Homo sapiens: one gene and its partner. The protein of the gene in region 2 interacts with the protein of the main gene of each other region in a biochemical or structural test. Each region holds a gene or a part of one and is shown on either strand. Other genes may lie near its edges.

What was found.
Region 1: the proteins of AHSG (region 2) and DCN form a complex in vitro, tested with the Homo sapiens proteins (one study listed by BioGRID).

Annotation. Positions count from the first base shown.
Region 1 is NC_000012.12:91,140,301-91,155,906, forward strand, and holds the end of DCN (decorin isoform a preproprotein), read right to left. Parts: intron 12,890-15,606; coding exon 12,796-12,889; intron 11,493-12,795; coding exon 11,354-11,492; intron 5,953-11,353; coding exon 5,758-5,952; 3' UTR 184-5,757; downstream 1-183. UniProt on the Homo sapiens protein: May affect the rate of fibrils formation.
Region 2 is NC_000003.12:186,599,886-186,616,242, reverse strand, and holds the start of AHSG (alpha-2-HS-glycoprotein isoform 2 preproprotein), read right to left. Parts: upstream 3,184-16,357; 5' UTR 3,102-3,183; coding exon 2,889-3,101; intron 559-2,888; coding exon 448-558; intron 1-447. UniProt on the Homo sapiens protein: Promotes endocytosis, possesses opsonic properties and influences the mineral phase of bone. Shows affinity for calcium and barium ions.

The DNA of each region.
Region 1 (15,606 bases), on a different chromosome or scaffold from region 2:
AATTCTTGAAGAAAACAGAAACTAGACTGTTTTTGTAAGTTTTAAACTCATAAGCCAAAACACAGGGATTTAAAAAAAAAAAAAAAAAAACAATGATTTCTTTCTCAAGAGGTTTTTTTCTTTCCTTGGTGGTGTTCAAGCAAGAACTGTTTTGGAAATGCTGACAGGATCATAGCAAAGGCATCCAGAGGGAAACATATAATATGTTTATTTATCTTAGAAACCACAGAACATTGCAAAAGGCCAAATTGGCCCTGTAAAATGTGTTGCTAACATGTACAGTATGATTGCTTAGTTTGGACAAAGTCAAGTCATTTCTGTGCTGATAAAGAAGGATCACAATCTATATTCCGGCATCTCTAGAATTTATGTCTACAGCTCAACCCTTTCCCTTGAGCTCCAAAATTCTAGATCTAAATCCTCCTTGACACCTCCATATGGAAGTTGAATATGCATCTCAAAAAGAACAGATTCAAAACCAGATATTTGATTCTCAGTTCTTCCAGCTCAACCTCCCAGTCATTACCATCTCAGTAAATGGTGACTTCATCCTTCCAGTGGCCCAGGCCAAAATTCCTGAAGTCATCTCTGTTTCTTTTCTTTCTCTCTCATGCCCCATCTGATCATTCAGCCATCCCTGGCCTCTCTACCATCAAAACAAACCCCATATTTTGATCCCTTCTCAACAATTTTTCTACTATTATCCAGGTCAAAGTCTTCATCATCTCTCACCTGATTATTGCACTAGCATCCGAAATATTCTCTCTTGGCCTATTCCTGTTACCTTACAGTCTATACACGCAAAGGGATCCTCTCAAAGACAGTTGAATCAAGTCACTCCTCTACCGAGACCCCTCTAATAGCTCTCTGTCTTACTCAGAGTAAAAGCTCATCTTTACAATGGCCTAAAAAGTCCTACAGGATGCGATTGTCATTACCTTTCTGACCTTGTATCATATATTATCTCTTCTTGCTCACTTTACTCTGCTCACGTTTGTCCTCTCTGCTCTTGTTGGAACGTGCCATGTATTTTCCAAATTCAGGGCCTCTTTTCTTGGCTTGCTCCCTTCAGTTCTTCATCTCCCTGCTCAAATGTCACTCCTGATAAGTCCTTTTTCCGACCATCCTATATAAAATAGCAAGTCTCACCCCCTTCACATCCCTTATTCCCCAGTTCTGCTTGACATTCCTCCACTTTAATTGTCATGTCCTGGAATGTCTCCTCCTGCTGCAACATCTGCTTCAGAGGGCAAGGCATTATGCACTGCTGTGTCTCTGCCACTAGAACACTGTCAAGCACACAGTAGGTTATTAATAAATATTGGCTGAAAAAATGAAGTAATATGTGCTAGTAGATATATCTGATCAAGACAAAAAAGTTGGATTATTTTGACATTTTTGAGTGTATTTTAAAATTGATTTGTGTTTCTATGCTTGTTCCTGATGGCCTGGAAGCATTCATTCAGCCCTCACAGTCACTGCAGAATGTGTGGCCTGGGAAGAGTCTCCTGATCTCCAATGCCTAAGTGATTGATGGCAGTCATAATACTCAGGAGGCAACTCACCCAGTCCTTTTCTGGTTATCTTATACTGGGGTAGGGTGTGCATATGCCCTTTCTTTTGGCTCAAAATTGTTCAACTTCTTTGAAGGTTGTTTTAGTTTCCTGAATGCGTATGCTTGTATATGGTTTTAATAAGTTTAGTGTTCTCCCTTTCTTGATTTTACTTTGTTTTCCACTATTATACTTTGTGGTGTGAAATTGACAGTCTGTCACAGACCTGTGATTTGAAATAATTGTGACAGATGGTGTGCTTGAATACATAAACAGATCCACTAGAAGGAATGTTTTAGCAATAAGTGTGGAAACTTAAAATTGAGCAGCAAAATCAAGAGTGAAATAACTGCAATGTCGACTCAGCAACCTCGAATGTCTGTGCTGCAGGAGAGTCTGAAGGACAGTGAAGTCTTGTGAAGAGTTGTTGTGTGTGTGAAGGGGCAGTCTTGGACTGGGACTGCCTGGAACATTGGATGAATGAGAAATGACTGTATAAAACATTTTTAGTTTACTTGAGGGATTAGGCAATTCTTCCTTCGTATAAAGATAAGATTATGATATCCTGCAGCTGCCTCTGCAATAAAATTGTGGAATAAACCAGTTTCTTGGAAAAGCATTATGGAGAACGGTAAAGGAATATAAAAAAGATAATAGTGATGATTCAGACAAATGAATGAGCAGAAGAAGAGGAGATCCAAGTTATGCCTAATTTATGTCATGAGAATTACATAGTAACATTTATTGCCAGATCAAAGTCTTTGAAGAAAAATGCTTTAAAAGATCATGAATACTGTGTTCTGGAAAATCTGTGTCACTTGAATAAACTAAGATGGCTGTACTGAAGACAGAAAGTGGTATGGCCTAGGCTAGCATAAATGTACAACAGAGGCCTTTCCAACCAGGAGGGGTCAGAGACAAATTTTTAAGTTTCCAACCTTTTATGTGAAGCACCCATAATCGAACAACAGTTTTAATGAAAACAAAAAAATTAAACATTTAATAAGGAAAAAAGAAAGTGGATATTAATGATTAAGTTGTGTCTCCTCCCAGAAGATATGTTCAATATCAAACCCCCAATACCTGTGAGTCTGACTTCATTTGGAAATAGAGTCTTTGCAGATATAATCAAGTTAAGATGGGTTCATACTAAATTAGGGTGAGCCTTAATCCAATATAACTCATGTTCATAGAAGAAGAAGAGAAAAGACACAAACACATGAGAGAGAAGGCCATGTGAGGGTGAAGATGGAGGCATAAATTAGAGTCACGCTGCCATAAGGCAAAGAACACCTAGATTTAACCAGAAACCTAGGAGGAGCAAGGAAAGGTCCTCTCCTAAAGGCTTTGGAAGGAATCTGACCCTGCTGACACCTTGATTTTGAATTTTTAGCCTCCAGAATTGTGAGAAAGTAAGTTTCTGTTGTTTTAAGCCACCCAGTTTTTGGTACTTTATTATAGCAGCTGTGAGTTCCTTACAGAGGCCAATAAGCAGGAGACAAAAGACAGACATGGTACAATAGGAAACGAGAGGACTCTCTGCTGACTTATTTCTCCAAGTGTGGACCAAGAAGCAGCAGCATTCCTGGAAGTTTGTTTGAAATGCAGAATCTCAGACCTCGATCCAGAACTGACACATAAGAATTTCCCTTGAAATGATTATAGCTCGAACTGTGTGCCTGTAATAACAATGGCAGTAGCAACACCATAGTTGAGCCCTTTCCATTTACTCTACTTTGATCTATAAGTTATATTCTACACTCGCTAACTGAATTCACACACCAATCCATAAGACATGTACAATTAATATTCCCATTTTATGGACAAGGAAATGAGTCACAGAAAGGTTAACTAGCTTCCCTTAGTCATGCAAATAGTAAGTGTCGAAGCCAAAGAAATCAGCTATATTTATCTTTATTTCAAAGGAAATAAAGATACATATATATGTATATATGCAAAAAGATATATATATAAATATATATATATAAAGATATATATGTGTGTATATATATAAAGATATATATGTGTGTGTATATATATAAATATGGGGGGAAGTTGTGTTGACAAGAGTGCTGGAGAATCAGGCCTGTTTCTCATTTTGATACTGAACAAAATTAGAAGTAGCTTGACTACTGGAAAAGTGTGTTGGATCTGCCTTGCAGATAAGTGTCCAAAATGGTCTTCCCCTCTTTAGATTTCTACTTATTTCTCACCACACTTGTCAGTTAAGCAGCAGGATATCTGCAGGCTTTTCCCCATAAGAGAAAGGCTGCAGCATAAAGGGTATATCATTCAAGGCTATAACATGGAGTGTGCATCATTGAAGGCTACAACATGAAGGGTGCGTCACTCAAGGCTACACCATAAAGGGTGAATCATTCAAGGTTACAATAAGAAGGGTGAATCGTTAAAGGCTATAGCATGAAGGGTGCATTATTCATGGTTACAACAGAGAGAAGGATGCATCATTCAAGGTCCAGCTCTGAACAACAACAAAAAAAGTCCATTTATGGACATGCACCTTGAATTCCTGAATGTCTTCCAATAGAAACCACCTATTCAACTGTAGTCATGAGAGGAGGATCTCTTGGGAGATGAAAAAGAGAAGAAAAAGAGAGGTTTCTTCCCTCTTATTAAAAATACTGGAAAATTCAGATTTTATGGTCCTGCAAGAATGTGGAAAGATGGAAAAGAGTAACTTTCCCTAATGTTAATATTACCTCGGGATATGTCAAATGTAAATGAAAATTATTGCTTCTGTTTCAGAAGAAGAAAAATAGTTTGATTAAGCCTCCTTTATGCCAACCTGTCAGAGGTGTGTCCCAGCATACGTCTTGGATTTTGAACTTAGTCCCTGTCTTGAATAGTGCCTCCCCACCAAATCTTGCTCTTGAACTATTATGCATCTATGGAAACCCACCTCAACTGTTATCTCCTCAAGTTTTTCATGTTCCACTGCACTCATTCTGCTACTATTAGCAGAATTGATTACCTCTCATGTGAGCCACTACTATAACTTGCACATATTTCTATGACAAAATTTAGTCCACCATATTTCAATTATTTGCTATACTTAATAAATTATTTAAATTTACACTGTATTTCAATTATTTTTTCCCATATGAAACTATGATTTATAGGGGTTTTAACCATCAAATATCTAACTTCATAGAAGACAGAAACTATTTTCACATATTTGCTTATTAATTGTTGATAGCACAAATGTACAATTTGATAAATGTTTACTGTAAGTAAATCATCCCCAGGCTTATTAAATTGTCTGCATTGATAGTTGTTTATAAATTCTACAGAAAACATTTCTAACATGGGTGGTTTAACTAAAGAAAATACTTACGTCTAATACATCTAGTAATTGTAGAAATGTTCAGCCTGATTACATGAAGTCACATGATAGTTTTAATATTTATTTAGCAGAGGGGTAAATTGAAACATCAGTTCTCTAGACCAGTCAGGAAATGTATGCTTTGTGCTTTATAAGCTTACATTCAACATAGATGACATAAGTTACCATACTCAAATGTAAGATAGGGAGAGGTAGAAGAAATAGCTGAGAACTTGAAAAGATGTACTGTTATTGTCAACAAACCAATGTCTTCTCCCTTCATAAAATTGTGTTTAGGGAATATTAACAATTAAGCTTGTATACAATAGTAATTTTGAATGTATTTTTAAATTTATTTTTTCAAAATAATGACATTAGTAAAAATTTTACATAGCCTGTATTGAATTCACACATTCAAATGAGGCTTTACCAGTAATGATGGGGATTAATACAGAGCTAGTGTTTGGCATTTGACTTTATCTCAAATGAGCTAACTGCTCAATGAATTACAGAAGACTCATACTCTTTTTATTTTTTCCTGGAAATTAAAAAAGAAAAGCTTTACTAAATATTGACATATATATTTACTCCAAATTTTACATTTAGTGAAATAAGAATATCTCTAGTAGCTCAGTTAACATCAACAGAAAGCTTCAAAAGATGATTCTGAAAATGGCAGGCAAAATTTCTTTTTATTGTAGGCAATTACTTAAACTGGAAATTTGGCTTTATGCATAATAAGTCATGTGGGTAAAACATCCACATTGCAGTTAGGTTTCCAGTATCTAGCTTTTATTTATTTTTTAGCAATGACATTAACAAGATTTTGCCAGGTTATAAAAATGAGGGCTTTCTTGAGAATTACTTATAGTTTCCGAGTTGAATGGCAGAGCGCACGTAGACACATCTGAAGGTGGATGGCTGTATCTCCCAGTACTGGACCGGGTTGCTGAAAAGACTCACACCCGAATAAGAAGCCTTTTTGGTGTTGTGTCCAGGTGGGCAGAAGTCACTTGATCCAACTACAGAGATATTGTTGTTATGAAGGTAGACAACCTACAACATGAAACGATAGAAAATAATTATTATTCTCTAAATATGTTGAGGCCCTTCAGGTAAACATTTTATTTTTTTTATTATTTTTTAATCCTTCACTTTTTTTTTTTTTTTTTTTTTTTGAGATGGAATCTTGCTTTGTCACCCAGGCTGGAGTGCAGTGGCATGACCTCAGTGCATTGCAGCCTCTGCCTCACAGGTTGAAGCTATTCTCCTGCCTCAGCCTACTGAGTAGCCGGGACTACAGGCACACACACCATGCCCGGCTAATTTTTGTTTTTAGTAGAGTTGGGTTTTCACCATGTTGGCCAGGCTGGTCTAGAACTTCTGACCTCAAGTGATCCGGCCACCTCAGCCTCCTGAAGTGCTTGGATTACAGGCGTAAGCCACCACGACAGGCCCCACTTTGAATAACTGACTACTTCTCAGATTAAACTTTTGATTTCTCCCTTCCTTTTGAAAATTTGCTTTTCCCTTCTTTAGTCTTGTCTTCCCCATCTCAGTAAATTGCATGCCAATCATTTCAGATGCTCAGGCTATATACATTGTCATTATCCTTGAGCTCCAATTCTCTTATGCTCTCTACATAATCAACAACAAATCTTGCTAGCTCAGCCTTCAAAATGTACACTTAATCTAGTTCTCTCCACCTCTACTCCGACAACCTTGTCCAAGTCACCATTGTTTCCTTCCAAATGATTGAAGTTGCCCTGATTATTATTCCTGCTTCCCCTTTTGCCTTCCTAAATTTTATTCTTTTTTTAAGCTCTCAGAGCAATTGCTTTAGAAAGTAAACCAAATTATATGTTCTTTGCCTCAGAACTCCAGTGGTTTCCAATCTCATGCAGAATAATAAAATCTAAAGTTCTCAAAGGGGCCTACAAATCCTACATGATCTGACATCCTTCTACTCTGACCTCCTTTTCTCTTACTGTAAAAGCCAGTCATCTGGTCTACTTGCTGCTCTTCTAATGCACAAAGCATGATCTCTTCTTAAGTTATCAACACCGTTTACTCAACCTGGAATAATCTCTAAGGTGTCTTCAAGGCTTGTTGCCTCATGTAAGTCGTTTTTTCTTACCAGAGAGACCTTCCCTGACCATCCCATTCTGCCATTCTCTGGGGCAGAATTACGTTACATGTTTTTCTTCATAGCATTATCAATATGTAGCATATTATGCTTATTTGATATTGTTTGTTTCTCTCCTCTAGAGTAAAAGCTCCATGAGACAAGAATGGTTCTGCTTGTTTATGGCTGTATCTCCAGTACTAGAACAGACCAGGTGTTCAATAAATATGTGTTGAATGAATAAATGTTATTTCATATATCAGGTCTACATGACTATATTGGGTCTACATGAAATATTATGTTTTCAGGACAAAAAATATATACACCTTTTAACAAAATGATATAGAATGAGAAAGTGCTGTGTAGTGAAAAAGAAAAAGAGAGCATAAAGTACTGGAATTGAAATAAAGAATCACAAACTCCAAGAAATTCTTAAATATTTAAACATCACAGCATTTAGAATAGACCTAGGAAGTTTTAACAAATACATATTTTACGTAATACGTTTTACTTGAATACAGTGCAATATAATTAATCAGAGTTTTTTTTCTGAATTATGTTTTACAATCATGTTTAAGATAATGGTAATTTGGCCATAGATTTTCTTAGGGTCCCTAAAAACCGGAATTATACAAAGAATGTTAGAAATGAGTTTACAGTTCACTTTGAGGATATGAGTTCTGTAGGTCAAGAAGCAACTTCTCTGAAATCATACAAGCAAGGTTAGAATATAACACTAAGACAACAAGGTCTTTTTTTTTTTTTTTTCTGAGACGGAGTCTCGCGCTGTTATCCAGGCTGAAGTGCGGTGTCGCAATCTCGGCTCACTGCAAGCTCCGCCTCCCGGGTTCACGCCATTCTCCTGCCTCAGCCTCCCGAGTAGCTGGGACTACAGGCGCCCACCACCACGCCCGGCTAATTTTTTGTATTTTTAGTAGAGAGGGGGTTTCACCATGTTAGCCAGGATGGTCTCGATCTCCTGACATCGTGATCCGCCCACCTCAGCCTCCCAAAGTGCTGGGATTACTGGCATGAGCCACTGCGTCCTGCCACCAACAAGATCTTAAGTGAGCTATAAAACCTATGAAGTACTCCCTTAAAACATAACTTGAAAGCCTGGGCGTGGTGGCTTATGTCTGTAATCTCAGCACTTTGGGAGGCCGAGGCGGATGGATCATGAGGTCAGGTGTTCAAGACCAGCCTCACCAACATGATGAAACCCCGTTTCTACTAAAAATACAAAAATTAGCATGGCATGGCGGCACGTGCCTGTAATCCCAGCTACTCGGGAGGCTGAGGCAGGAGAATTTCTTGAACCCGAGAGGCGGAGGTTGCAGTGAGCCGAGATTGTGCCATTGTATGCAGTCCAGCCTAGGTGACAGAGCGAGACGCTCCGACTCAAAAAAAAAAAAAAAAAAAAAAAAAAAATTTGAAATATTGTTCTACCCACTAGGACATTCACATTCATGTGCTGGTGAAAACGGCTTTGTTTTTGTAAGGGCTGAAAAGCGAATTAGTAGATGTCATATAAAAACAGAAACAAGGAATATTAAAGTGAAAGCAACACTTATATGTATGGTTTATGGTTCTCATATTTTGGAAGTTTCTTGTTGTCATTTACCATCCTCTATATTCCAGTAGTGATTAGCAAGTAAAGGAAGGGGTGTTTGGTGAGCAATTTATGGTTAATATTGAAAGTGAGAGAACAAAATATCAAGACGTAAGTATTAGTCTGTGTAGAACAAAATAAAAGTAGATTCCAAACTCATTCTATGGGGTCAATATTTTCTAAGACCAAAGCCAGACAAAATTCATCATAAGAAAAAAAAATGTAATCAAATACCTCTTATGAATATGGACAAAAAATCTTTCACAAAATGTTAGGAAGCTACATTTCACAACATATAAAATGATTTCATGCTATAGGACCAAACATGATTTATCTCAGGGTTGTAAAATTGGTTTAACTTATGAAAATCAATCAAAGTAATATCAATGTAATACACTATATCAAAAATATAAAGGCCAAAACTCGCATGATTATCTCAATAGAAGCAGGAAAAACATGTAAGAAAAAAATTCATAATAAATGTTTTCAGTAAATCAGAAATAGAAGGGAACTTCCTCAACTTGATAAAGAGCATCTATAGAAGACCTGTGGCTAACATCGTAACTAATGGTAAAATGAATGCTCCCTCCTCCTAAACTAGCAAATAAGGCAAAGATGTCTAATTTCATCACCTTTGTTCAACATTGCACTGGCGATTCCAGCCAATGCAAAGGGTGGGTTGTGGGGGAGGGGGAGACCTAAAAGAATCCAAATAAAATAACTAAAGCTGTCTATTTTTAAATAATATATCCTGAATATAGAATATCCAAAGGAACTCACAAAAATTACTGCAACTAAAAACAAATTTGGCATAGTACCAGGATAGCTCAATATATAAACATCAATTGTATGTTTATACATTAGCAGCAAACAAATAAAAAAATTAACAATTCAAAACAGCATCAAAAAGAATGAAAAACAATGAATGTAGTAAAAGAATTGCAAGGCATGTATGCTAAAAATGACAAAAACTGTTGAGAAAAAGAAAAGAAGATATAAATAACCCTTGTTTGTGACTTGGAAGGCTCAATATTATTAAGATAGTAATTCTTCCCAATGATCTGTAGATTCAAAACAATACCTTTCAAAGCCTTACAAGAATATTTTTCCAGAAATGAAAAAGTAGATCCTAAAATTGATATGGAATGCAAAGGAACCAGAATAGCCAAAATAACTTTGAAAAAAAAGAACAAAGTTGGAGAACCTACATTTTCTAATTTCAAAACGTAATCAAAAGCTACAGTAATTGAAGGGTATAATACTGTCATATGACTAGACATATAGATAAATGTAATAGAATTGAAAGTCCAGAAATAAACCCTTACATTTATGATCGAGTGATTTTCAACAGTGACAAGACAATTCATTGGAGAAAGAATATTATTTCCAACAAATGACATTGGGACAATTGCTATCACATACAGAAAATGAATTAGACTCATATCATATACTAGGATTATCTCAAAATTAGATTATAAAACCAAATACAGGAGTTAAAATTATAAAATTTCTAGATGTTAAAGTATTCCTGGAATCTACACAAAACTATGGTCTATGAAACAAACAAAAATGATAAAATAGATTAATGATTCCCTGTGGCTGGAGATGAGATATTATCTCATGCCAGTCAGTATGGTGATTATTAAAAAGTCAGGAAACAGTAGATGCTGATGAGGCTGTGGAGAAATAGGAGTGCTTTTACATTGTTGGTGAGAGCATAAATTAGTTCAACCATTGTGAAAGACAGTGTAGCAATTCCTCAAGGATGTAGAACCAGAAATACCATTTGACCCAGCAATCCCATTACTGGGTATATACCCAAAGAAATATAAATCATTCTACTATAAAGACATATGCACACATAATGTTTATTGCAGCACTATTTTACAATAGCAAAAACATGGAACCAATCCAAATGCACATCAATGATAGACTGGATAAAGGAAATGTGGTACATATACACCGTGGAATACTATGCAGCCATAAAAAGGAATGGGATCATGTCCTTTACAAGGACATGGATGAAACTAGAAGCCATCATCCTCAGCAAACTAACACAGGAACAGAAAACCAAATACTGCATGTTCTCACGCATAAATGGAAGTTGAATGCTGAGAACACACGGACACAGAGAGGGTAACAAAACACACAACAGGGGGTAGGGGGTGAGCGGGCGAACTTAGAGGATGGGTCAGTAGGGCCAGCAAACCACCATGGCACACGTATACCTATATAACAAACCTGCACATTCTGCAAACGTATCTCATTTTTTTTTTAGAGGAAATAAAGAAAAATGATGAGGCCATGTCAAAAAGAATCAGGAGCTAGACCAAAGAAGCTCTTTCCAGTCAATTCTTGAATAATTTGAAAATTAAAATTAGTGACAGTAAAAAAAAAGAATTTTTATTTTACTTGTGGCTTCAAACTCCCCCTACTCACTATGGCACCAACATCACCACCCCTACTGAAAAAAATATCAGCATTACAGAAGACTTTAAGTTTCATCTCCATACTTCTAAATCAAAAACTTTATTGAAATCTAGCTAATGTAAATTGTGCTTCATGATTTAATTTTTTTTATGGTATTTTGTCATAGAAATTCTAACTAAGACACTCTGGAAAAAAAACTTCTAAGAAGAGCTTCCTGCTTCCCAGCATCCCATAAGCAGGGTGGGGGTCTTGCTTTTTGGATATTCCTCACATAAGCAGTGGCTTTGCATTACCTGGATGTACTTATGCTCTGCCAGCCCACCAGGTACTCTGGTAAGCTTGTTGTTGTCCAAGTGAAGCTCCCTCAGATGAGGCGTGTTGGCCAGAGAGCCATTGTCAACAGCAGAGATGCTGTTGAAACTCAATCCCAACCTGCAACAGAAAGCAGAAATGAAAGCAAACACCACACATGGATGCCTTTCTTACAAGCATTGTGTAGTTAATCAAGTCTATAGGAAAGGACATTTTTTGTTTTTGCACTTACTCTTCCCAGTTCTTGGAGTGCTTTCTCCAACCTCTCTGAGCCTGGACAAAGTCCATTTATTGTTAAGGTCTCGGCTCAAAGTTACTGTCTTTGAGATTCATCTGACAGAACGTGATTGGACATAGTCTCCTATTCCTTATAATATCCTAAGTTCCAACATCAAATTATGGTCAACCATAATATTGGAACATAATATTCCTAATAGTTTATTTTTAAAAACTGTTCACTTATTCAAACATTTATTTGTATATTTAATAAACAAATATTCTTGAAAACTTATGTGCATGATATTATGCTAGGCATTGTGAGGGACAGAGGTCTCATGGATCAAAAACCACTTTTCCCATCAAAGAATATTTTACCTAGTAAAGGAGTTGATTATACACACACACATGCATATATATATATATACACATTCAAAGATATATTTTATATTTATTTATCCACCATGAAATTTATATATAACAACAGGAATGAGTAAATCTGGCATGATAGTGTGCTTCTCTGTAGGGACAGTCAGCAATATGTACAGATCAAAAAGAACATAGTGTTCCTTGAAGACAAGTGAAAACGTTTGCCAGATTGAAGTTATGTTTGAAACCAGGACAAGTACTAGTATCACTTATTTTAAAAAAAATCATTAAGAAGGGCCAGCAAAAACAACAACAACAAAAGCTTTTCTTTTGTTGATCTACATTAAATGCCCAGAGATATTTTATTTTAAACTTTTCAGAGAAGAGGGGGTTAGAGAATCTCATAATTATTAAAATAGTAATTTGTGTGATGCTCAATATTTCTCTGTCTTGGTAGATTTCATTTTAATGGATTTTCAAATTCTAGCAACTGTGTTATAATTTACTTAACTTTCTGTTTGATGCAAATAAGTTAGAACATATTAAATGCACATATTGATTTAATCACACACTTTGTGTATAAAATATAACTAATCTATAAACAGTATAGTATTAATAAAATATGAAGCTGATCTTGGTGGTTTTAGTAAGGGCACTATTTCATTGGCTTCTTCTCAAGAAATAATTGGATATGCTGAAGTTTGAGATTATAGAAACAACAACAGCAGTGAAATGTAGTACACTCAAAAATCAATCATCATGTTTATAATTCTTATCATATAAGCACTAATATACCTAGCCATTGTTCTGATAGAATGTCATGAAAGAATATTATTACTTAGCCAAATTATTCAGTCCTTTCAGGCTAGCTGCATCAACTCTGCTGATTTTGTTGCCATCAAGATGTAATTCCGTAAGGGAAGGAGGAAGACCTGGAATGTGGAATTAAAGATGTTAAATTAGCAGATAAACATTATAAGTACAGAATGTGGACAAACTTAAAGAAGACATATGCCATCAATTTTCTAAAAGACACACAGTTTCAAAGAATCAGCTTTACTTTTATCTTTTTTTTTCATCCCTTTTATAATAATGTGTGCTTTTGGAAGTAGTGGAAGCCCTTGCTATTTTTCTCTTAGGTTGACTTTAACAAAAACCTGGATGATTTCTATCATGTAGTCAATTTTTGTTCTTGGAATAGAAGAACTGAAGTCAACGCTGAGTCTCATTATTCTCTTCCACCTTTGTTAATGGGCTAAAACTGACGTTGATAAAAGATAGTAATTATAAAGTGGGAAAGTCACTATTCGAACCATAATGAAGAGATTACGTATAAATTAAACCCATGTACAAACTTAATTGTCTATTTCATTAATGAGCATCATTAAAAATTAACACTGATATACTGTGCTGGTCTTAGCCTTAATTGACTTTTCCATAAAAGCATCAAATACCTCTGCAAAATGTCTGTGTAGAAACAGCTAACATTTACTTATGCCTATTAAATCCAGAATGTTTATGCAGAAGGAGTGGAGAGGTCTATAATCAAGTGATCTGCCATATGTGGAGCACCTGGGGTAATAATTTTACATCCAAAGTACCCACTAAACCTCTAGATAGTACTTGCATGGCTGTGATTTCCAAAGATCGAGTATTATAAATATAAAAGTTTAAATATTTTATTTTCATTTCCTCCTAGCATCTGAGGCTGTATTATATTTTATACAGCTTTTAAAATAACATATTGTTCCACTTAATAGCAATAGATACAGAGAAAATAGCAAATTGGTTAAGTGTAGAAAGAACATCTGATTGGCAGAAAGTCTTGGCTATTTGTCTATAAAGACACAGAATTGAAAAACCACAGGTTTCATTTTGTCTAAAATTTTTATCACATCACACTGAATTCTGTCAATATTGTCCATTTAATAAAATAGTTTAGTCCATATTTGACTTGAAAATGATTCTTAGTTTCCTATGGTAGCATATTTTGTGTTAGAGCTGCTAGGAAAAGGAACATCTATTTATTGTATGTCTGTTACGCACCGAACATTGACCTTGGCACTTTTCCTACTTCAAATCCTTTAAGCCTCTCAAAACATAAATTATTGGTCACTAATCCCTTTTCACAGTTAAATAAATAAGACTCAAAGTTACAAAGTAATTACAAAGTAATGCAAAATGTATATTTTTTAATGCAGTGCCTCCAGTACACCAATTGCTATCACAACCATCGGCCTTACTTAGTTTCAAAGTGTCTCCCTTTTTGGGATGTCAGTTTCCCAAATGTAAAGTTATAGCTAAGAAGAAGTTTGACTATGGGAGAAAACCTTGCAATAGGTTTGAGATAGACAAATTTGTAAAGTGCATCATTAGCTTCTGCAACTGTGGCATTGAGTTAAAGAACCCATACTCCAGTTATTTTATTTATTTGTTTGTTCATTTATTTTAAATTTTCTTTTTTCTTTTCCTTTTTTAAGATAAAATATATTGAGGTTTACATTGGGCCAAGTACTTGCGTGTACAATACAAGCCTTACTTCTATAGAGTAATCCTCACAATAATCCTAGTAGACAGGGTTATTAATAGCTCCATGTAACATCTAACAAACCTGAGGTTATAGAAATGCAGAATAATTATCCTAAAGTCACAGTACAACTAAATGACTGAGTTAGGTCTCTCACCCAGGTTGATCTAAGTGTATGATTTTTATAGTCTCTACACTACTTTCTACTGCCTTTCCATTTCCATGAGTGATGGGAGAAAATATCACCAGGAGGTTGCTGATATTCAGGCATAGGTATCCCAGCCTAAGCAAGGTGGAATCATGTATTAGATAAGCATAACGATGAATAGAAAGGAGGACTTAATATGCCAACAGAGTGAAATAGTTAAACACACGAGTTCTGACATCAGCACCACACAATTCCATCTCTGCCGCTTCCTAGCTCTAAGAACTTAATTACAATTTTCTTTACCTGTTTAAGCCTCATTTTCCACTTTTATGAAACAGGAATTATAACCCTACTATATAGGGACGTTGTAAGAATCATATAGAAGACTCCATGACAAGCATTTGGCATGATACCCGGAACTAAATACATGCTTAATAAATTGTAGTTACTTAACTTTTCTATTAAGCGGTAGTAAATAAAAGCAAGCTATAAATGATGAGGAAAGAATACCTGGGATAGATAGAAGACATAGCAAAGTAAAGGAAAAGAGATCATGAAATGATAAAAGGTATCAGTGAAGGATATTTTGGAGCATGCATTAAGAGGGACAGCAAAGTCTGAGATTGTGCTAAATGTAAGTCATCTGGCTGCATGAAATAAATTTCAGCAAGAATTTTAATAAGATCTATCTATCTATCTATCTATCTATCTATCTATCTATATCAATCCCCAATTTATATCTATCTGAGATATAAATATTTCATTCCTGCACTGGGGATAGCAAAAGATTACTTGTTACATGCAAAAAATTGGAGACTCAACATGAAAGTGCTTTATGAATTATAAATCAGTCTTTATCATCTATGTATCTATCTATGCCAGTAGTTGCTACTAAGGAAGTCAAAAGCATGCTCTGTATTCAAAAGACTAGGAGGAGGGCAAGGGGTGGTAAGAAAGCATCCTATGGAATATGT
Region 2 (16,357 bases):
AATGGCAATTTTATTTATGATGATGATTATTATTATTATTATTTCGAGATAGAGATTCACTGTTGTTGCCCAGGCTGGAGTGCAATGGCAGGATCTTGGCTCACTGCAACCTCCACCTCCCGGGTTCAAGCGATTCTCCTGCCTCAGCCTCCCGAGGAGCTGGGATTTACAGGTGCCCGTCACCACGTCCAGCTAATTTTTGTATTTTTAGTAGAGATGGGGTTTCACCATACTGGCCAGGCTGGTCTTGAACTCCTGACCTCAGGCGATCCACTTGCCTCAGCCTCCCAAAGTGCTGAGATTATAGGCATGAGCCACTGCGCTCGGCCACAAATGGCAATTTTAGAAACTGCACCCTGGCTAGCCAAGAAGGCAGGCTGAGACGCTGGGTGAATCGGTGGAGCTGGCCGAAGGGCCACCTACAGTCATCCTAAGAAGGGTACTCACATGCTCCTTCAGCTGCCTCACGCTGCATCTTGCCACAGGGGTGGGGTCCAGCACATGGCAGGTGGTTTCCAGGGTGTCTATTTCAATCTCAAACAGCTCTCCGGAGGGCTGCTGTGGAGACAAAGAGTGAAGCCGTGAGCAACCTATTCCCCTGATCCTGTGGTGCGGTCCACGGTATGCGCCCTCATTGGGCTTGAGAGCACCCCGCTTTTGGAGAGGTGAGGGAAATGTCATTCTTACTGTCAGTCTGCAACTCCGTCTAGCTCTGAACTGGCCTGTGGGCAGGACAATGACCAGGGCTTGTCTGGTCTTCGTCTGTTGATTAAGGAAGCACCAGATGATGCTCGCAAAGCAGACGGGGTCCTGGGCTTGAACAAGTCGATGGAGCCACAGCCCTCACTCTGAGCTCTATTTGAAAACTACAAATGGGTGTTAACACTTATTTGTATTTATTATTTATTTAATTTTTTAAGATTTCACTCTTCAAGCAGTGCTTTGGAAAATGCAAGTTTGGATTTTTCTCAGACAAGCTGCAAAATAAGGTGGTGTAGGGTAATATCTTACTGTCTTTTTTTAATCTCCTCTATCCCTCCCTCTCCTTCTTTCTTTCTTCCTTTTCATTATTTGCTTTCCTTCCTTCCTCCGTTTTCTTTTCCCTCCTAGAGGTTTTTGCTGCTGTTGTCCTTGGTTTTTCCTTTGTCTTGGCTTGTGCAGCAGGTGCCGGCATGCAACGATGCTGCTCTCTACTTCCCCCTGCTGGCGATAATGGGGAAGGGCATGTCTCCCTCTGACAGGAAACTGGATGTCACTAGTGTAGACACGAGGGAGCTTGCAACAATCCTTGGAGATATTCTTGTGAGTTCACCTGTTTCTGTATCTTGTCTTCGAAGCCTGAAAAATCCAGAAGGTACAAGTATGCCTTTTCTCCTCTCAGCCCAGCTCTGTTTGCCTCTCATTGGTTCTGCCTGATTCACTAGTACCTGAAGCCTCAGCATCCCCTCCCCTGGGAGAAGCTCCGCATTTTATGATGTCCAGGTGTGCCCAGAGTGACTGCCTGAAAGCGTTCACAGCTCTGGCGAACAGGAACCGGGTACACCTGGGTTTCTCAAGGGAACCAACTCTGAAGCTCTGCCTTTAGTAAAAGTCACAATGCCCATTCATGATTACCTTTTCCCTCAGATGTGCGTGTTGCGTGTTCATTTCCCCTGACTTGATCAGCGTTTCCTCCTAACCACCACTGTGCTTTAATATGGCTGCAGCACTCTTAAAATCCATCCGGAGCAATCCTGATTTCAAATATTTTGTCTCTTTGTGAGACGGATGGCAGTCGTCAGTCGGTCCAGGCTTCCTGTTGTTGACCTTATTTTCCAACCTAGATTGTAAGCTCTTGTGGGCACATATTGTGCCTTTTTCACCACTGTATTAGGTTGAACCATTAAAACGGCCAATATTTGGTTGCTTTTGATATAGAAAAATGGCAGTTTTATATGGTTCAACCTAATATCTCTGGTTCTTGTCCAAGGAAGGCTTGTAATACATATTTGCTGAAAGAATTGTCCTTAATCAGAAATAAATCTAATTTCAAAACAGGCAGTAGGCAGACAGCTTCTTTCCACCTCTCCAAATCTCTTGACTGATCCCCGAGGCATATTTCCAGCTTGATTTTTCTTGTCACTGGCTTCAAGCTGCGTTGGTTTCCTGTCTAGTGTGTGAGGAGGTGAATTGTGTTTATGCCAAGACTTCTCTCTGGGATGTGGGTAACTCTCTTTGGGAGGCAGTTTGTGTAGAAGAAGGAACACAGATATGGAATCAAATCCCAGCCTGAAGACTTAGTAATTATATGATTTTGGACCAAAAAAAAAAAGACAAAAACAAAAAACAAAAAAACTGCACACACACACACAACAGAGCCTTGGTCTCCTCTTGGGTAAGACAAGAACAATATATGTACCACACAGCACCAGGAGGCAGGACCGGGAAAGAGTAAATGAGATAATCTATGTGAATGGGCCTGGCATATAGTAGGCATCTGCCAGATGCTAGTTTTATTCATTCTCAGTCTTTGTTAGAGAGAAACCAAACCAAAGACAGATACGTGATTTTCAGCCAGTGGTAACTTGGCAACTAGGAGCTGGTCTCTTGGGTCCTAGTTTTTCCAGCAAGTTACACTTTCTGTCTGTGATCTGCACACTACCATTTGAAGCACTTTTTCTCCTGCACACCACCTCACACCCCACCCAGCTCCCTCCTGACACCCATGACTGCCATACAGAATGTCTCCTCTCCTGCCCTCTGCCTGCCCCTTCCCTCACTCCTGGGAAGAAATCAGAGAATTTACTCCTCTGTGGTTTCATTTGCACTGGGTGATGGTGATTTTTTGAGGCACCTGATTGAGCTCCATGTACACATTATTTCAGCTCATAGACAGCAGGTCCACTTACCTGAGGCCACACCTTTACTTCATCAATCTGGTTCAAGGTGTGTTTGTATCCCCAAGGAAGGTTTTGATTGATGTAGTCTATAGCCACCAGAGCTGCTTCCTCAGTTTCTGGATCATCGCAGTTCGGTTGTCTATAAATCAGCCCTGGGCCATGTGGGGCTGAGTGGCAGCCCCAGAGCTGAGCAAGACAAAGGAGCAGGACGAGGGACTTCATGGCTGCCCCAGAGAGGCCCTGGCAGGCGTGCAGGTGGTTGGAGGCTTCGGGACCAACCCAGGTGCTCTGCTGGGAAAGGTAGACCCATGGAGGGTGGTGGGCTTTATTTATCTGTTGGAGCCTGCCGGAAGAATTGCATAAGGATACAGGATGATTTCTGCTTTGGTTCAAAAGAAAAAAAAAAACACCCTGCAAACATCAGCCCTGGAAAAGCAAACAGGTTAGGACATCGCTGGTCCCCAAGAAATCTGCCAAAGTCCATGCTGCTGTGGGGGAGATGCTCCAAAGTCTGCTTGGAACATGGTAATAGCAGCAAAGAGAAGACAGCTGAGGGAATGAGGTGGACACAGTCAGCCTCAGAGTGCCATGGGTTTGGCAGCAGAGGAAATGTCTTCTACTGTGATCTGAGCATGCCATGGGGTCTGTGAGAGGGAAGGGAGGATACTCAGCAATTTGATAAAATTCTCCAATGTCAGGGGGAGTTAGCTTTCCAAGAGGAGTCCTACAGGGAGAACAAGGCCCACAGATATAGCAAAGGTACAGATGTGTATAGGAGATGCCAAGATTTTGGGGGAAGATTCTTGGAGAAAAGAAAAAGGATGAGAGATGTTTCTGCCTAAAGTGGGGAATGGAGGTGGAAGAAGGGGGTTCCCGTGGCAGGACCACGGTGGGAAATGACCAGCAAAACGTGTGGGGTTCCCTGCCCCTTCTCTTCCTTCTCCAGACCTCACTGCCAGGGCCCTGCATGTGACAGCACAGATGGGCACTGACCAGAGTCTCCTAGCACTAGTAACCTAGTGCCCCTGCCAGTGCACAAGGGCAGCAGAGGGGAGTCCTGACTCATTTGACACAGCTCTGGGTTCGAGTCTGACACCGCAGGCTGAGATGCTGCACGAGCAGCTACGGACACAAATACCCCTTGAACATTCTTTGCAGACTCAGCAGAATTACAGTGTGTCTTTCTGGCCAGAACAGAGGGCCAGTGTTGACTCCAGGCACTGCCTATTAAGTGACCCTTGACAATTCCAAGTGTGACATCCAAGGAGGGTTGGCAGGATAAAGAGAGGCTTGGGAAATATCACACAAGGACCTGGTTTGGTTTAGTCTGAAGCAAAGAAGCCCTCTCATGGAGACCAACATGGTCTTCAAATATTTAGAGGCCATCATTGTGTGTGGGTGAATTTGTTCTAATGTTTGATATTGCTTCAGAGAAAAAAAAACTGGTTAAAAAAAAAAGAAAGAAGAGGGGCCCCTCCAAAGGGAAGCTTAATATTGATTTTCTGGGGTGAGAATCGGGGTGAGGGAGGTGAAGTGAGTGGTGATGGGGCAGAGAAGGTAGTTGGCAGGACTGTTCTCACATTTACTCCCAGCTGCTCACACACCACACCGAATCTTAATGTCAGAAGCTCAGAAGGTGTGGCCAGGACTCCAGGTTCTCTCCAAGAGGGGGACCATGATTCTTCCAGATGAAAAACAAACTCTGGTCATCCAGCAAGATGATCCTCAAAGCCAGGGGCAATCTTCCATCACCTTATACTCCATTTCACTCAGGGCCCTGACTCCTGAACTGTGTGTGGAAGCTATGCTTTTCTTTATATAATCTTTAAAAATATTGAAGGGCTGGGCACGGTGGTTCACACCTGTAATTCCAGCACTTTGGGAGGCTGAGGTGGGCAGATCACGAGGCCTAGAGATTGAGCCCAACCTGACCAACACAGTGAAACCCTGTCTCTTCTAAAAATACAAAAATTAGCTGGGCGTGGTGGCGCGCGCCTGTAGTCCCACCTACTCGGGAGGCCGAGACAGGAGAATCACTTGAACCCAGGAGGTGGAGGTTGCAGTGAGCCAAGATTGCGCCACTGCACTCCAGCCTGGCAACGGAGTGGGACTCCGACTCAAAAAAAAGAAAAATTGAATAAAGTGTGGTAAGGTGGCACACACCTGTAATCCCAACTATGAAGGCAGGATGATAGCATAAGACCTGGAGTAGGCTATGGTTGCAGTGAGCTATGATAGTGCCACTGCACTCCAGCCCAGCCAACAGAATGAGACTCTGTCTCAAAAAAGAAATCATTCACAATCTCATCATGCAGAGATAAACAGTGTTAATGTTTTGATGCATTTATATCTTTTCTTTTTTTCTATGTAAAATAATATTTTAATATAATTTTGATTATACTGCATATACAGCTGTTAAAATTTTTTCACCTATTGCTTTAACTTGAATATTTTCCTATGTCATTAAGTAGACTTAAAAACATGTTTACAGGCCAGGCACGGTGGCTTACACCTGTAATCCCAGCACTTTGGGAGGCCAAGGCAGGTGGATCATGAGGTCAACAGATAGAGAGCATCCTGGCCAACATGGTGAAACCCCATCTCTACTAAAAATACAAAAAATTGGCTGGGCGTGGTGCTGGACGCCTGTAATCTCAGCTACTTGGGAGGCTGAGGCAGGAGAATCACTTGAACCTGGGAGGCAGAGGTTGCAGTGAGGGGAGATTGTGCCACTGCACTCCAGCTTGGGCAACAGAGTGAGACTCTGTCTCAAAACAAAAAACAAAAAAAAACAAAAAAAAAACAAAAAACAAAAAAACAAAAAAACACACTTTTTTATTTAGGAATCTTTGGCTTTTGATTCTTTTTTTCAGGATAGATTTTTAGAAGTAAAATTATTGATTCTAATGATTTGCACATTTTTAAAGCTCTTAATTTTTATAGTCAAATAGTCTATTTGGCTATGCCAATTTATCCCCCTTCCATTTAGCTGTTGTGTGATGTCAGCTCAGCTGTTTTCTCTTTTCCTCTGTTACTGCTTTCATGCTGACTTTTGTGGGAACTTAGATATGTGAACACTCTCAGAATTCTTTTTTAAAAATGTAATTTATGAATATCTTTGCTTTTATCACAGCTACTCCATATGTCTAATACTTATAAACTAAAATAACTTTGGTATCAAGCTGAGTAAAATGATCCCTTAGATTTTTTCAGTTTCCTTAGAAAGAAATGTTGCCATTTACTTACTGGAAATGAGGAAGAAAATAGATGATATTTTGGTATGTTTTCCAAGATGGCTGTAGCATTAGTGCCAATGGGTAGTTCCCTGTGCCTGATGACACCAGTTTTAAACTTTAAAAGATTCTCACTTGCCAAATGTATATGGGACTCATGAGTGATCTTCACGTGCTGAATACATATACTCATGAGTAATCTTGGGTCAGTTTGATCCAACTGGCTCCAGCTTCTTTGCATATCAGTAGGAGATAGGCATTTCCTCCATTTTCTGGTCCTTTGCTGCATTATTTTAGTTACTTTTCTGTGCATTTTTCTATGAGGCTCACATCACAGCAATAAAATAATCCTCATTCCATTCACACTATGATGGCTGATAGTGTATTGAGGATATCAAGGGCTTGTTAGAACTGGTCAAGGAGAGCAGGCCCAACAGTCTAAGGAGCAGGAGAGGATCAACAATCTCCAGGAGATGGCAGCAGGGTGCCGGGCAGTGCTTGCTGGGTGCAACCCTTGTGTGGCTGATGGCAGAAATCTCAAGATGGCAGCTGTCTTAGTCCATCTGTGTTTCTATAAAGAAAAACCTGAGGCTGGGTAATTTATACAGAAAAGAGGTTTATTTGGCTCATGGTTCGCAGGCTGTACAAGAAGCATGACACCGGCATCTGCTTCTGGTGAGGGCTATAGGCTGCTTCCACTCATGGCGGAAGGCAAAGAAGAGCTGGCGTGCGCAAGCTCTTGGTGAGAGAGAGGAGAGATGCCCGGCTTTTTCTTTCTTTCTTTCTTTTTTTAACAACCAGCTCTCACGGAAAATAATATAGCAGGAATTCATTCATTACCACCAGGATGGCACCAAGCCCTTCATGAGGGATCTGTCTCCATGACCCAAACACCTCCCATTAGGCCCCACCTCCAACATTGGGGATTACATTTCAACATGAGACGTGGGGGGACAAACATCCAAAGTAGAGCAGCAGCTAAGGATGGCACCAGGGTTCCTGAATTTGTCAAAAGGACTCTTTGCCAGGGAGCCACTAGGGCAAGTGTTGTATTTAAACTATTCCAAGGCAGAATTCAGTGTTTATAGTTGCAGGCCAGGAGCCACAACAACAAAGATCACCAGGGTCAGAGCTCAGGGTCAGAGTTTCTCAGAGGTTGGTTCCATTAGTGGATGTGGGTATAGGAGGGAGAGGATAGATATAGAAAGATATGAAATATCCCGTCAGGCAGCAAGAGCTAAGGTGATAGCTAGAAACCAGCCTCTCACAAAACAGAAGATGAAAAAGTGCCTGTCAGCAAAAGCCAGAAGGACAACTGGTTTCTGTAGGGAGGAAATAGCAGTGGTTGGTTTTTAAATCATTAGGTCAGGTTCATGGCTCTGCCCTTTCTGGTACTTAAAGGGCCTAGGCCCTGATAGACTGGGTATTAATTTCACTCAAAGACTGGGTGTTTCTTCATTCATATGTTCAATGAACAAACATTTATTGAGCACCTACTATCTGTGTTATCAGATGCCTGGACACAGAGTGATGAGAACCACATGCTCTGGAGGAGCTCATCTTGACTCATTTAGTCCGGCAATGCCTGATCAGCAAAGAACTTTATGTTAATATATGAAACTATCATAATATTATTATACAAATTATCATATTTTCCTGTGGAGACAGGTTGGGATTTACTTCGCCAATGCAAAGCACCAGTGAATGAAAGCAAATTACCTTTGTCCAAGGACCCATCTGGTTTCTTGTGAAAGTAACTTAGCACCAAGCACCCTGGAAGTCATCAACCCATAATTAGGAAGAGCCCCTTGTACTCAGCACCAAAGTTGGGAGATGTGGGCCCAACCGCAGGTGGCAAAAATGACCATAAGTAATGGCTCCATCTTTTGGGGTGGAAAAAGGGCTCTGCAAGCCTTCCTCCAACGCTGCCCTGATAAGCAGGACCTAGCTCTGCAAATCCAAACCCCAGAAAGGAAATTGCATTTGAGAACATATAAAGGGAACAGTAAGGCCTGGACTAGAGTAGGGCAAGGGAGTGGGTAAAGGTGCAAATTTCAAGGAGGCCTCTCCCTTGAGGTTGCTGCTTCTTAAGTGTTGTGCTCTAGGCCTCTCTTGCTGTACCTTTGTCCTGCCCTGCGGAAGAGGCATAATCGAAACCCAGGATAGAAAAAATGTTTCTGGCTGGATGCGGTGACTCACACCTGTAATCCCTGCACTTTGGGAGGCCAAGGAGCGTGGATCACCTGAGGTCAGGAGCTTGAGACCAGCCTGGCCAACATGAAGAAACCCCATCTCTACTAAAAACACAAAAATTAGCCAGGCATAGTGGTGCGCACCTGTAATCCCAGCTACTCGGGAGGCTGAGGTAGAAGAATCGCTTGAATCCGGGAGGTGGAGGTTGCAGTGAGCCAAGATCGCGCCATTGCACTCCAGCCTGGGTGACAGAGTAAGACCCCGTCTCCAAAAAAGAAAAAACGTTTCTACTTCATCAAATATTTTTTCTCTTTCAAGGGAAGTTCTTTTAACATTTGGGCTGGTGATCCTATGTGTGCAATGGGCCCCAAAACACAGCAGTCCTTGCAGTAAACTTTTCATCATCACATAAGAAACAATGGGAAACCTTCCATTCTCTTTTGTACAATAGGAAGGAGACTTACTGCTACATACTGTTTAGTGTGGCCTTGACACTCACTTAAACATTCTGTCTTATAAGAGAATCACTTCACGGTTAAAGAAATGGGGAGATTTGAGCTTTCCAGGCCTGGAACAGCACCTGCTCAGGAAAACAGCATCATCATAGCTCCTGTTACTGACTTATTCATAAAAGGCATGAGAGCTGAACTATTCTTATCCTTCCTCCTTTACAGAGGGAAAAAAGGCTGAGAGGTTCTGGAACTTGACCACATCACACGCCAAGAAAATGGAAGGGCCTGGATTTAGCCCAATCACTTTATTTCTGTATTAACTCCAAACCAAAAGTATAAGGGACCCAAGAAAAGCTGAGGAGGTTGGCTGCTAGACACCAGTCTCCTGCTAGACACTAAATTGAGTAAATCATTATTCTTGAGAATAGAAAACATGGCTGCATTAAAAAAGGATGAGTTCATGTCCTTTGTAGGGACACGGATGAAGCTGGAAACCATAATTCTGAGCAAACTATTGCAAGGACAGAAAACCAAACACCGCATGTTCTCACTCATAGGTGGGAATTGAACAATTGAACAATGAGGACACTTGGACACAGGGTGGGGAACATCACGCACCGGGGCCTGTCGTGGGGTGGGGGGAGGGGGGAGGGATAGCATTAGGAGAAATACATAATGTAGATGATGAGTTAATGGGTGCAGCACACCGACATGGCACATGTATACATATGTTACTAACCTGCACCTTGTGCACATGTACCCTAGAACTTAAAGTATAGTAATAATAAAAAAGAAAACATGGCTGCATGTTGCTATATTAGAAAAGAAAACTGATTCAAACTCAATCTTGTTGATATGAAAATAAAAATGTAAAATATAAAAAAGAAAGGAATAGAAAAATGTATTGAGTTTGGTCAACAATTAAATAATTTAAAAGTTAGTTTGTGCCCATAATTTCAGTCAGTAGAAAATATCTGGATCTTAGTTTTTCCAAAAAACACTTTGACTTGTTGACTTTAGCAATGACTCAGCCGGTCTTAAAGTTATCTCTATTTCAGGTTTAGAAGGTAAATAAAGGGTAAATGATTACACTGTTTCTAGTCAGATGTTTTTCAGGGAAAATGGTAGTCAATGCATATAGTCACATCCATCTTTCCTGCTGGTTTCTGTCACCAGACTTTGATGTCTTCAAAGCAAGGCGAGTGAGTGGCACTCTTCAGACAAGAAGGAAGATGGCAGGTGAAATCATCTTCTTCTAATGAGCCCTGTGCTATGCTTGCTGATGTCCTTGGTCACGGAGATTTTCAGAAAAGCCATGGCCTTACCAGTGAAGGTTACACAGAGGCCACTGGAGTCAAGTAATTCATTGCTCCTTATTACATTTAGGCACTTCTTTATCCATCATGCAGGCTATTGGGATTAAAATGGGTCCTTTCAACAATGAGTCAATATTGAAGATTCTGTGGATCCATTTATTGACACATATTGGGTATTCTCTGGACACATTCCTTAACTTCAAAACTGTTTCTTGGACATTGTGCTAGGTGCTAAGGAAACACAAATGGAAGGTATAATTCTTGTCTTCTGGGTGTTCACTGTTGGGTCTGATGCCATACAACTATTGTGAACACACGAGGGAAGTGTAAGCTGTGGTTCTTGCCCTCAGCCTGAGGAGCACAGTCCCTGAGGTGGAAGGGTCTCCAGATGACAGCAGTGTCCATGCCTTATTTACCCTTGATTTCCAGCACCTGCCTCCTGCCCAGCACAGTTGGGCCCCAAACCTGATCACTGACGGGGTTGCTCTGGACCAGCCCATCACTCAATGCAGAGCTTCCTTCCAGTGTTTGGTGTCTGCTTGAGGATGTGGAGATATGAGGGCCTCTCTCCCACTCCTGCAGCCCATTCCATTGTTGCTTCACACTGATTACTAAGAGATTTCCCTGCCTGCCTTGTAACCTGACCAACAAACCCAGATTCTGCCCTCGGGAGTTACCCGAACTAAAACACTATACAGACTAAATCCCTGGTCTCTATATTATGCTTCAGGTATTTAGAGACATCTGTGCTGTATCTTGTTTTCCTTCTCTGGCCTCCAATATCCCTATTCCTTTACATACTTCTCAGGTGAATTAGTTTTGAGACTACATCATCATCCTATTGACCAGGCAAGACTAGCACCAATGATTAAATAATAGGATGAATCATCCTGTGATTAGGAGTGAAATTAATTCTTAGCTCTCTGAGTGGGTGTGATCTGGTGCATGCACATGTGTGTACATGTGGACAATTCAACAATTACAGGATGAAGATTAGCCAGCTGCTACTGGCAGGACAGGAGGGGTTCTCTTGGTTTTCAGAGGCATATCTGGACCCTCAGAAAGATTAACAATGAAACCAACAAACAAGTCCTTCTTCTCCATAGACTACCTTGATGAGACTTCTTGAATGTTGAGAGGGAAAATATATGAGGCTAATGGAAGACCCATAAGAGGGGACTAAGCCTCCTACTCTGCTTGGATCTGGCATGGCTCTTGGCTGTAGCATTTCTTCACTCTTTGTTGTCTGATCTCTTGAATACACTTGAGGATATGGGCAGTCTTTGCCTCTCATGCTCTTGTTAGAATAGTAAAAGGAGACAAATTGAAATTGAGAAGGTGCAGATCACAGGGACAGGGCAGCTAATGTGGGCAGTTTTCTGTCTGTGCTGGGATTATGCAACAGGCAGCGAGATCATTTGGTAGGTTAAACAACAGATTGAGCCTCCAGAATTTAGATTCTTTTGTTTTTGTTTTGTTTTGTTTTGTTTTGAGACGGAGTTTTGCTCTTCTCACCCAGGCTGGAGTACAGTGGCACAATCTCGCCACCTCCTGGGTTCAAGCGATTCTCCTGTCTCAGCCTCGAGTAGCTGGGATTACAGTACAGGTGCCCGCCACTACGCTCGGCTGATTTTTGATATTTTTAGTAGAGATGGGGTTTCACCATGTTGGCCAGGCTGGTCTCGAACTCCTAACGTCAGGTGATCTGCCTGCCTTGACCTCCCAAAGTGCTGGGATTACAGGCGTGAGCCACCGCGCCCTGCCAGAATTCAGATTCTAATGGAGACTGAGGCGTGGGAGGATGGATACTTGCAGGAAGGTAAGGGTAAGATGGAGAGAGGCTGGATGGGTGGGAGGAAGAGGTGTGGGAGCAACCTGATGAGGGAGCTTACATGGAGAATCAGGATAGACCCAAGTCCAAACCCTGGTGCCACTATTTACTTGCTATGTGACCTAACTAGAGATTAAATCTGGCTCTGCCTTTGTTTCTTCATCTGTTAAATACGGGCAGTAAAACCTGGCTAGTAGAGATGAGCTGAAAATTTAGTGAGATAACATTTGCAAAATGCTCAGCGTAGGGCCTGGCACAGGGTAAGGTATCAATAAATGGGAGTCCTTTTTTGTTGTTGTTTTTTGGGATGGAGTTTCACTCTGTCGCCCAGGCTGGAGTGCAGTGGCGCGATCTCGGCTTGCTATAACCGCCACCTTCTGGGTTCATGCGATTCTCCTGCCTCAGGCTCCCGAGAACCTGGGATTACAGGTGCCCACCACACCCAGCTAATTTTTGTATTTTTAGTAGAGATGGGGTTTCACCATGTTGGCCAGGCTGCTCTCGAACTCCTGACCTCAGGTGATCCACCCGCTTTGGCCTCCCAAAGTGCTGGGATTACAAGCATGAGCCACCGCGCCTGGCCGATAAATGAGAGTTCTTTATAGCTCTAATAATACACTAGGACTGAGAGCACAAAGAGGCAATATAGGGAACACTAAAGACCAAGATACGGTCTTTGCCTTCGAGTGGCCTGTCTCTAGAAGCGATACATCCTGGTGGCTAAGAGTAAGGGTTCCTTAGCTTTAACAACTCAGGCAAATTACTTAACTCACTGCATCTCATTTTATCCTTCTGTAAAAGGAATAGCAGCAATGTATACTTCAAAGGACTAATGAGAGCATTAAGTAATACGGTATGCTTAGCATTCCTGGCATCAGGTAAGCGGCTATATTACCACTTACTCAGACGGTAGAAATATAACAGGTAAACAGTGCTAGAGGTCACATCTTTTTCCATCAACAGGCTGGCAAAGAGAGGGTTGTGTGTCGGCAACTTCCTGTAACAAGAGGAACCGGAACAAAAGGGGGATAGTGGTACTGTAGGAAAGTAACCGATCAATCTTTCCCCATTCTTTGTGCTACAAGGAACAGCGGCCAACTCAGGGAACCCAATGAGGCAGGACTCAAAGAGAAGAAGGCAGTAGGCATAGGTCAGAGTGGCTGGTTGGGGCTCAGGATGCGAGTACACAGCTAAGTTTCCTGCAAGGTGGAGAAGCAGGCACAGAGGTGCTGGGACAATGAAACAGGGCTGAGGAAGGAGAGGCGAGCAGCTCAGAAGCTTCCCTGGGAGGGGATTCCGTAGGCATTTAAAAGATTGTGTTTGCCCAGTGGACTTTCAGCTTCCCATTGGAGTCTGCAAGTATAATCACCAGGGCTGGCTTTCCAGGTGTGTGTCCTGTGCAGGCCCCTGCACTTAAAAGGACCCTGTGCCTGTGGAATGTTCTGCTGTGGCTGTCTTGAAATTCTTTTTTTATTCAAGACAGAGTCTCGGTCTTTTACCCAGGCTAGAGTGCAATGGTGCGATCTCGGCTCACTGCAACCTCCGCCTCCCAGGTTCAAACGATTCTCCCGCCTCAGCCTCCTGAGTAGCTGGGACTACAGGCATGTGCCACCCTGCCTGGCTAAGTTTTGTATTTTTAGTAGAGACAGGGGTTCACCATGTTGACCAGCCTGAATTTTTAGCAAGGGCCCTGGGTTTTCATCTTGCATTGGGCCATGTAAATCATATAGCCAGTCATTAATCATAACTAGTACGTTAGAGGAACCAAGTGCTGTAGGCATTTGCAGGAGAGTGGGGGTGGGGTGGGGGGAGTGGATCATTTCCAGCTGAGGGTGGACAGGGGGAGAGGAAAGAAGGTGTTGTGGACAGGGGACACTTTGAATTTGACCCTGAAGGATGGGCAGGATTTGGATAGATAGAAATGGGAGTACGGCTATCGGTTGGAAGGAATATGTTGGCAAAGTCGAGGTGTAGGAGTATGGACTTTGCTTAGGGAATGGTAGAAATCCTTGTGAACCTGGAGTCTGCTCTTGAGCTGCTCACATCTAGGCCCTTCCACAGGAATGCCATGCTCAGGTGGCCTTTCTATAGGGAGCCTTTTTCAAGGTCTTTAAAATCCTTTCTTCCAATTACCACTCTGCTAGGTGCCTGCCCAACTAATAAATTAAATCCAGCCATGTTATTCATCGAAACCTCAAGGCACAGCTGGAGAAAAGCAGATTTTTTAAAGAATCAGAAATTTTAAATTGAAAATATGGTCACTGCCGGGCGCGGTGGCTCAAGCCTGTAATCCCAGCACTTTGGGAGGCCAAGGCAGGCGGATCACCTGAGGTCAGGAGTTTGAGACCAGCCTGGCCAACCTGGTGAAACTCAGTCTCTACTAAAAACAAAAATTAGCTGGGAGTGGTGATGGGCGCCTGTAATCCCAGCTACTCGGGAGGCTGAGGCAGGAGAATCACTTGAACCTGGTAGGTGGAGGTTGTGGTGAGCCGAGATTGTGCCACTGCACTCCGGCCTAGGTGACAAAGTGAGACTCCATCTCAAAAAAAAAAAAAAAGAAAAATATGGAATTGAGGCTGGGCGTGGTGGCTCATACCTATAATCCCAGCACTTTGAGAAGCCAAGTTGGGAGGACCACTTAAGCCTAGGAGTTTGAGAACAGCCCAGCAATATGGTGAGATGCTGTCTCTAGGAAAAACAAAAAAAATAACTGTTATGGTGGCGTGCACCTGCATTCCCAGCTACACTGAAGGCTAAGGTGGAAGGATTGCTTCAGCCCAGGAGGTTGAGGCTGCAGTGAGCTATGATCATACCACTGCGCTCCAGCCTGGGTGACAGAGTGAGACCCTGACTCGAAAAAATGGGAAAAAATTGTCATTTAAATAAAAGAAAAATACTTAAAACAGGTCAAATAATAGATCAAATACAGACCAAGGGAAAAATCAATTAAGAATCCCTATCAAGCTTGGTGTCATGGCATGTGCCTATAGTATCACCAGCTTCTAGGAGTATCTAGTAGCTGATGAGACTACTAGGAGCCCAGGAGTTTGAGTCCAGCCTGTGCAATGTAGCAAAACATGGAAAGAAAAGAAAAGAAAAGAAAAGGGAAGGGAAGGGAGAGAGAGAAAGAAAAGAAAGAAAAAGAAAGGAAGGAAGGAAGGAAGGAAGGAAGGAAGGAAGGAAGGGAGGGAAGGAAGGAAGTAAGGAAGGGAGGGAGTGAGGGAGGGAAGAAAGGAAGGAAGAGGGAAGGAAGGAAGGAAAGAGAAACGAAGGAAGGAAGAGAAAAGAAAAAATATACAATTCTCATCATCTATCTTGCTCTCTTGATCTTTTATATCACAACTTCTGTGTAGGGATTTGCACAGCTGGCAAGAGGTAGAGGCAGAATTCTGACCAGGATCCAAATCCTGCCCTGTGTCGTGTGCCCCACAGTGCGACAACTCCTGCTTCACTCCCTCAGGGTGGGTTTCCCCAAACAGAAGCCTGGAGTTGTTCAGAAAACAGTGCAAGTGTTGGCTCTTACAAAATCACCTAGAGTCATACCATAGTGACACAGATGAGAAACAACATAAAATGAAAAAGGCATTTTTCTTTTAAAAATCTCACAATTTCTACCCTCAACTGACTATCCTAAAATTTGCATTTGAAATTGTATGTCTATGAACATATGACTGTCATCACTTATATTAACTCAGCATATTGTGAATGACGTGCCAATGTACATGTTGTTGTATTCCTTAGATTTGCATAAATATTGAACCTTGCCACTTGCTCAACAAGCTTTGATTTTTCTTTTTTCTTTCTTTCTTTTTTGAGATGGAGTTTCACTCTTGTTGGAGTGGAAGGCTGGAGTGCAGTGGTGCAAGCTCGTCTCACTGCAACCTCCGCCTCCCGGGTTCAAGTGATTCTCCTGCCTCAGCCTCCCAAGTAGCTGGGATTACAGGTGCCCGGCAGCATGCCCAGCTAATTTTTTGTATTTTCAGTAGTGAGGGGGTTTCACCGTGTTGGCCAGGCTTGTCTGGATCTCCTGACCTCAAGTGATCCGCCCACCTCCTCCTCCCAAAATGGTGGGATTACAGGCGTGAGCCACCACGCCCTGCCAAGCTTTGATTTTTCTTTTCCAATATGTGTCCCATAGCTTCTAAAAGTTTCAGCTCCCGCTCCTGAATTAAACAGGACAGAGTTGCATAGATAGCTAGTATGTTTTGTGCAGTCCCAGAGCCTCAGCCTCCTCCAAGCTGTGCTGCTGCTCTCTGGGAACTAGTGGGACGGACCACCTGCAGTAGGGCTGGAGAGTCAGGACCAACAGGCCTGGCCTGGTAACAGAGCCTCCGTGATCAATGGGAACAACAAGAGTGTTGCTTAGTTTTGGCTTCTGGCTCAGCCCTACTTTGAACTCATATCCAAGTTCTGTTACAAATAAGAACTGAAGAGACTGTCCCTAGAGGACCCC